Linked DNA regions of Homo sapiens. The protein of the gene in region 1 interacts with the protein of each later gene in a biochemical or structural test. Each region holds a gene or a part of one and is shown in the gene's direction. Other genes may lie near its edges.

What was found.
Region 2: the proteins of NUB1 (region 1) and NEDD8 form a complex in vitro, tested with the Homo sapiens proteins (4 studies listed by BioGRID).

The regions. Positions count from the first base shown.
Region 1 is NC_000007.14:151,348,035-151,351,855, forward strand, and holds part of NUB1 (NEDD8 ultimate buster 1), read left to right. Parts: intron 1-1,038; coding exon 1,039-1,206; intron 1,207-3,389; coding exon 3,390-3,448; intron 3,449-3,821. UniProt on the Homo sapiens protein: Specific down-regulator of the NEDD8 conjugation system. Recruits NEDD8, UBD, and their conjugates to the proteasome for degradation. Isoform 1 promotes the degradation of NEDD8 more efficiently than isoform 2.
Region 2 is NC_000014.9:24,216,181-24,219,507, reverse strand, and holds the end of NEDD8 (ubiquitin-like protein NEDD8), read left to right. Parts: intron 1-1,076; coding exon 1,077-1,124; intron 1,125-1,292; coding exon 1,293-1,375; intron 1,376-2,284; coding exon 2,285-2,381; 3' UTR 2,382-2,651; downstream 2,652-3,327. Other genes in the region: NEDD8-MDP1 protein, read left to right, coding at 1,077-1,124, 1,293-1,375. UniProt on the Homo sapiens protein: Ubiquitin-like protein which plays an important role in cell cycle control and embryogenesis via its conjugation to a limited number of cellular proteins, such as cullins or p53/TP53.

The DNA.
Region 1 (3,821 bases):
ACCTACTAGTTGGGCATCCTAATCTGAAAATTCAAAATTCAAAATACTTCAGTGTGCATTTCCTTTGAGCATCTCCAGATGCTGAATTTTGGCGATTTCAGATTTTTAGATTAGAGATACTCATCTGGATTTTTTTGGGGAGGAACCATAATGACTTTGCTCTCAGTAATAACTGGTTCCCATCCTTTCTTGAGCCCTTTCAATCTTCTTTTTTTTCTCAATTCTAAAGCTCTCCCTTACAAATAGTTTTACAACTAGTACCCATGATTCACAGATTTTCATTAAGAGAATTGTTTAAGTCCAACTTGATTTGTTCTCACAAGTTTGAAAAATTGGAATATTTTCTGGGTTTTTTTTTCATTTTCCCTTCCAGTGGAGTTGAACAGTTCATTATACTTTTTAAATAGATCACAGTCACATAAGTCATAGCCCACCCTTTTCTTCTCCTTAGAAGATTCTCTATTATTATTATTATTTTACTATTTGTAGGTAGAAAACATTTATCAAATAAATGTTTTTGTTTTTTGCTTTTTGCTTTTTTTTTTTTTTTTTTTTTTTTGAGGCGGAGTCTTGCTCTGTCACCCAGGGTGGAGTACAGTGGCACAATCTTGGCTCACTGCAGCCTCTGCCTCCTGGGTTCAAGCGATTCTCCTGCCTCAGCCCCCCAAGTAGCTGGGCCTACAGGCACACGCCACCATGCCCAGCTAATTTTTGTATTTAAGTAGTTATGGGGTTTCACCATGTTGGCCAGGCTGGTCCCAAACTCATCACCTCAAGTGATGCGCCTGCCTCGGCCTCCCAAAGTGCTGGGATTACAGGCATGAGCCACCGCGCCCAGTCTCAAATAAGTGTTTTCACTTTTTCCTGGCCTCTCTAAACTCCACACCTCTCAAGATGTCAAACCACAGTGTGGACTGCAGTGTAACGGGGCGACCTCCACTCATCAGAGTTGATGGCCTTAGAGTCTTTCATGCCCTTTTCTATATTTTGCCTTTTTTTTTTTAAGTCAGTATTGCATTTTCTGATTTTTCTTGATAGGACCTTGCTAAGCAGTACTCTGACAGACTAGAATGCTGTGAAAATGAAGTAGAAAAGGTAATAGAAGAAATACGTTGCAAGGCAATTGAGCGTGGAACAGGAAATGACAATTATAGAACAACGGGAATTGCTACAATCGAGGTGTTTTTACCACCAAGACTAAAAAAAGTGAGTAATTTCCCTAAATTTGAGTAGGCACTAATGTCCAGTTAGTGATGAGGTCAAATAAATTGTTGTTGTTTGGAAAGTTACAATCCAAAGTCAGAATTCTTTTAAGTGACTTTACATATTGAACAATTTATCAGCTTGAAAGTCAATGTTACAAATTCTTAAACTGGAACATTCCCAAGGTAGGCTTTTAGAGACCCTCTTGGGCTTCTAAAATGCCACAGAGCTGTATGTCACATTCTGATCCTTTCTAGCGTGTGAACGTTGAGAAATAATGGGGAATAAAGGATTCCCAAGTTTCCTAGAAGCCTGTGCAGGAGGACACAGCACAGAAGGCTTCATCCTTTTCCTGTTCCAGTAGAGGTCAGAGGGCAGTCCGCTGAGTGCTCTCAAGCAGGGCCGAGGAGATCTGGGTGGGGTCACCTCCTCTCATTGCCATGGCCAGGTAGTTTGCATCTAGAAATGTCACTGTGGCAAGGCACCCAGAGCCTCTTGGGACTGATCGATGCCAGCACTCTCAGAAGAAATAAGAGCATAGGCTCCAGCCCTACTGGGTCTGTGGTTTTTCTCCTCATGTGCGGAGACAAGAGATCGTAGAAATAAACACACAAGACAAAGAGATAGAAGAAAAGACAGTTGGGCCCGGAGGACCACTACCACCTAGACGCGGAAACCGGTAGTGGCCCCGAATGCCTGGCTGTGCTGTTATTTATTGGATACAAGGCAGAAGGGGCAGGGTAAGGACTGTGAGTCATCTCCAATGATTGATAAGGTCACAGGAGTCATGTGTCCACCGGACAGGGGGCCTTTCCCTTGTAGGTAGACGAGGCGGAGAGAGAGGACAGCTTACGTCATTATTTCTTCTATGCTCTTCTCAGAAAGATCAAAGACGTTAATACTTTCACTTTCTGCTGCTGCTATCTAGAAGGCGGAGCCAGGTGTACAGAGCGGAACATGAAAGTGAAACAGGAGCGGGACCACTGAAGCACAGCGTCACAGGGAGACGTTTAGGCCTCTGGATGGCTGTGGGCGGGCCTGACTAATGTCAGGCCTTCCACAAGAGGTGGTGGAGCAGAGTCTTCTCTAACTACCCCAGGGAGAGGCTCCCTTTCCCAGTCTGCTAAGTAACAGGTGCCTTCCCAGGCACTGGCGCTACCGCTAGACCAAGGTCTGCTAAGTAACGAGGGCCTTTCCGGGCACTGGAGTTACCGCTAGACGAGGGAGCCCTCTAGTGGCCCTGTTCGGGCATAACAGAGGGCTCACACTTGTCTTCTGGTCACTTCTCACTGTGTCCCTTCAGCTCCTATCTCTGTGTGGCCTGGTTTTTCCTAGGTTATAATTGTAGAACAAAGATTATTGTAATATTGAAATAAAGAGTAATACTACAAACTAATAATGATATTCATATATAATCATATCTATAATCTATTTCTAGTGTAACTATTCTTATTCTATATATTTTCTTTATTATACTGGAACAATTTGTGCCCTCGGTCTCTTGCCTTGGCACCTGGGTGGCTTGCCGCCCACATATATATTAATATGTAAAACCTCATACATGAATGGTCATAGCAACACTATTCAGTAGCTGAGAGATGGAAATAGTCCAAATGTCCATCAACAGATGAAGGGATAGATAAATGTGGTCTATTCATACGATGGAAAACTGTTCACAATGCAAAGGAATGAAGTGCTGATGCGTCCACAACGTGGGTGCACCTGAAAACATGATGCTCAGGGAAGAAGCCAGACACAAAAGGCCACGTACTGCACTATCCCATTTATATGAAATGTCCGGAATAGGCAAATCTGTAGCAGCAGAAAATGGATTAGTGGTTGCCAGGGGCTGGGGGGCAAAGGGGAGGGAATGGGGTGCAGGCCATGGTGTTTCTTTGAGGGATGGTGGAAATGTTCTGAAATGTTAAAGACGTCCAGCTGTGTGAGACGGCCCCTCTGAGCAGCCCTGCCTGGTGGTGCCACGCTGCCGCCCCCTTGAGGACGTGCAGGTCACAGGGTCAGCCTGTGCTGGGTTATGTTCAGTAGACTTCTAGGCAGGCAGCATTTTAGTTTTTAACAGTGAACTCAGTTTATATCCTCTGCCGTCAGCTTTTCTGATTTCACAGGGTAATCTCTCCAAAATGGGTTAAATTCAAGTACGTTTTACTTTGTCTTATTTTTAACAGGATAGGAAAAACTTGTTGGAGACCCGATTGCACATCACTGGCAGAGAACTGAGGTCCAAGTAAGTATCTGTGTGCTCTGTGTCCTAGGTGCTCTGGGCCTTTTTACATTGGCTTATTTGATCCTCTGTGAGCGTCCTCTTAAGATAGGTAGGGCAGGTATTATCTTCATTTTATAAAAGAGAAAATTGAGGCTTTGAGGTTGAAGGACTTATTAGAGCTGTCACTGGTAGGTAAGTGGCAAAGTGAGGACTCAAGACTTGCAAGCACTATTTCCTGGTGTAACTTCCGAGCAGGTGGGAACTCCATGCCTATCATATGGTAGGCACTTGGTGCATGTTTGAGTGAATGAGTGAGTGATACAAGCAGGAGACACCTGGTACTCACTAGCTCATTAGTTTTGAATTACTATTTTTTTTCCCTAATGTATTAATA
Region 2 (3,327 bases), on another chromosome or scaffold:
ACTTTCTTTTTTTTTTTTTTTTTTTTTTTTTTGCGAGGGTGTTGCCCAGGCTGGAGTACAGTGGCACAATCGTGGCTTACTGCTGCTGCCTCTAATTTCTGGACTCAAGTGATCCTCCCACCTCAGCCTCCCAAATAGCTGGTACTACAGGCATGCACCACTGTACTCAGCTAATTTTTGTTGTTGTTGTTGTTGTTGTTGTTGTTTTGGTTGAGACAGGGTTTCGCTGTGTTGTCCAGGCTGGTCTGGAACTCCTAGGCTCAAGTGATCCTCCCGCCTCAGTCTCCCAAGGTGTTGGGATTGCAGGTGTGAGCCACCATGCCCAGCCAATTCTAGCATTTTTTAAAAAACTGCTGAGATGATTTCTGGTGTCCTTGAGAATTCTTCAAATTATCTGAATATTAATTTCTAGCATTGATATTTAGAACAAGGTCCTTCTGACTTTTTTTAAGATATCTTTCAGGCTGGGTGCAGTGGCTTACCCCTGTAATCCCAGCACTTTGGGAGGCTGAGGCGGGTGGATCACCTGAGGTTGGGAGTTTGAGACCAGCCTGATCAACATGGAGAAATCCTGTCTCTACTAAAAATACAAAATTAGCCAGGCCTGGTAGCGCATGCCTGTAATCCCAGCTACGTGGGAGGCTGAGGCAGGAGAATTGGTTGAACCTGGGAGGCAGAAGTTGCAGTGAGCCGAGATTGTGCCATTGCACTCCAGCCTGGTCAACAAGAGCGAAACTCCATCTCAAAAATAAATAAATAAATCCTTTCATTGCCGTATCATCTAAAATAATGCCAATATTCTCACTGATTTTGGGGGACTGATGTTGGAAGATGACTCATGGAATTAAGAGGATCAGATGGTTCAAAGAATCTTGCCCTATCAAAGTTGTTTACAGCCTAAAAATATTTGATAAATGAAGGTATGTTCAAAGCCTTCTCATTCTCCAAAGCAGTGCTGCTGAGAATATGCATCTTTTAGAAGGCAGTAGATCCCAAAGACCAACATAGGATGTTTTACCTAGAAGACAAATTGTACATTGGGCTTTAAGGACTCATGAAACCATTGCCTGTTTCAGACGCTGACCGGAAAGGAGATTGAGATTGACATTGAACCTACAGACAAGGTGATGCATGCCCAACTCCTCTTCATGTACTTCTTGCCATGTGTATTTGTTTGCATATGCTTATGAACTTGGTCCTTTTGCTCTCATGCTGTCTGCATAGCCCTTGTTCTTTCCGTTTCCATGGTCCTACCCCTAAGCAGCAGCCCCTGACTACTTGTCTCTCTAAAGGTGGAGCGAATCAAGGAGCGTGTGGAGGAGAAAGAGGGAATCCCCCCACAACAGCAGAGGCTCATCTACAGTGGCAAGCAGATGTGAGTTTGGAGTGAGAATGACAGCATGGCGATCTTATGTGAAGATGAGAAGAGGAGAGGGGGCACGTACTGAGGTGGATCAGGGGTGCCTCTTGTTTTTGGTGCCTAAGACTCTTTGGCAATCTGGTGAAGCCTCTAAGCCCCTTCTCAGAATAAGATTTTTTCAGGCATAAAACAAAATATATAGAATTAAAGGAAAACTAATTATATTGAAATAGTTATTAAAATACTAAAACAAATTTGTGATATAGTAATATATGTACTTTTTTATTAATGCATAAGATCTAATGGTAGGTCTAATATGACCATAATTTTGAAATATTTTCAAGATACCTATAAATGATCATGATAGAAAATAGTTAATTGCTATTGTTAACAAGTTACCTATATTGCTAATACTACTGTGGTTTTTGGGCTATGTTTAAAGTTAGAAGAAATGTTAAATTTCAGTTGGGGGTTAGTAAAAATAAAGATGGGATTTTTTTTCTCATTCAAGTTCACAGACCCCCAAAGAGATCCAGGAAACTCAAGAACTCCTGTTCTGGCCGGGCGCAGTGGCTCACGCCTGTAATCCCAGCACTTTGGGAGGCTGAAGGGGGTGGATCACCTGAGGTCAGGAGTTCGAGACCAGCCTGGCCAACATGGTGAAACCCCATCTTTACTAAAAATACAAAAATTAGCTGGGCGTGGTGGTGGGCGCTTGTAATCCCAGCTACTCAGGAGGCTGAAGCAGGAGAATTGCTTGAACCCAGGAGGTGGAAGTTGCAGTGAGCTGAGATCGTGCCACTGTACTCCAGCCTAGATGACAGAGCGAGACTCTGTCAAAAACAACAACAACAACAACAACAACAACAACAAAAAACTCCTAAGTCTTCTTTTTCTTTTTTTTCTGGCTTCCTTTTCCTGCAGGAATGATGAGAAGACAGCAGCTGATTACAAGATTTTAGGTGGTTCAGTCCTTCACCTGGTGTTGGCTCTGAGAGGAGGAGGTGGTCTTAGGCAGTGATGGACCCTCCATTTTACCTCTTTACCCTGTCGCTCATAATGAGGCATCATATATCCTCTCACTCTCTGGGACACCATAGCCACTGCCCCCTCCCCTGGATGCCCAGTAATGTATGTCTACTGGTGGGAGACTGTGAGGATCCCAGGATTCAGTATTCCTGGCCCAGAGGGCCCTTGCTGGCTACTGGGTGTTAGTTTGCAGTCCTGTGTGCTTCCCTCTCTTATGACTGTGTCCCTGGTTGTCAATAAAATATTTCCTGGCCTCCTGGAATCTTTCTTCTGTTGCACAAGTTGACTGAAATAAAAATGGACCTAATGCTCACTCAGTTATAGCAGGCTGAAGGAATCGGACAGTGGAAGGAATGGTGCTCTTACGGGGATTATCAGACTCTAGGAAAACCTACTTAGTGGTGTGTTGGAACCAGTTCCTAGTGGCTAATGAGAGCCAATTATTGGCACCTTTTTCCAACTCTATTAAGTGACTTCATGTTGGTAGCTTGAAATTGGCCATGGTAGGATTATTTACAGAAACTAGCAAACACTACAGATCAGTTCCTCCCCACAAACTGGTTGTTATACATCTACCAGTGTAGTGCTGACATGGATGGTGAAACCTTCGGAGAGTGAATTCTCTCTTGACTGTGGCTGTACTGGACATTTAGGCCTGGTTGGAGAACGCCTTCAAGGGTTTGGCTGACACTGTACTCTATGGCTGGAATATTACTGAGGACTTTGGGTTCTACACTGTCAGGAGGTTGATAATGCAGAAAGATTGAGTGACAAGCTGTGATGTATCACTTGGGTCTCAAGAAGAGGCAGGTGCTAGAAGAAAAGGCTTTCCTTCTTCCCTGGCTTCTTAGTATAATAGAATCGGGCAAGGCTGGGTGGAGTGGAGAAGTAGGGAGGATGCCCGTGGCCAATGCCTTAGAAAGACTTGACTGCTGTGG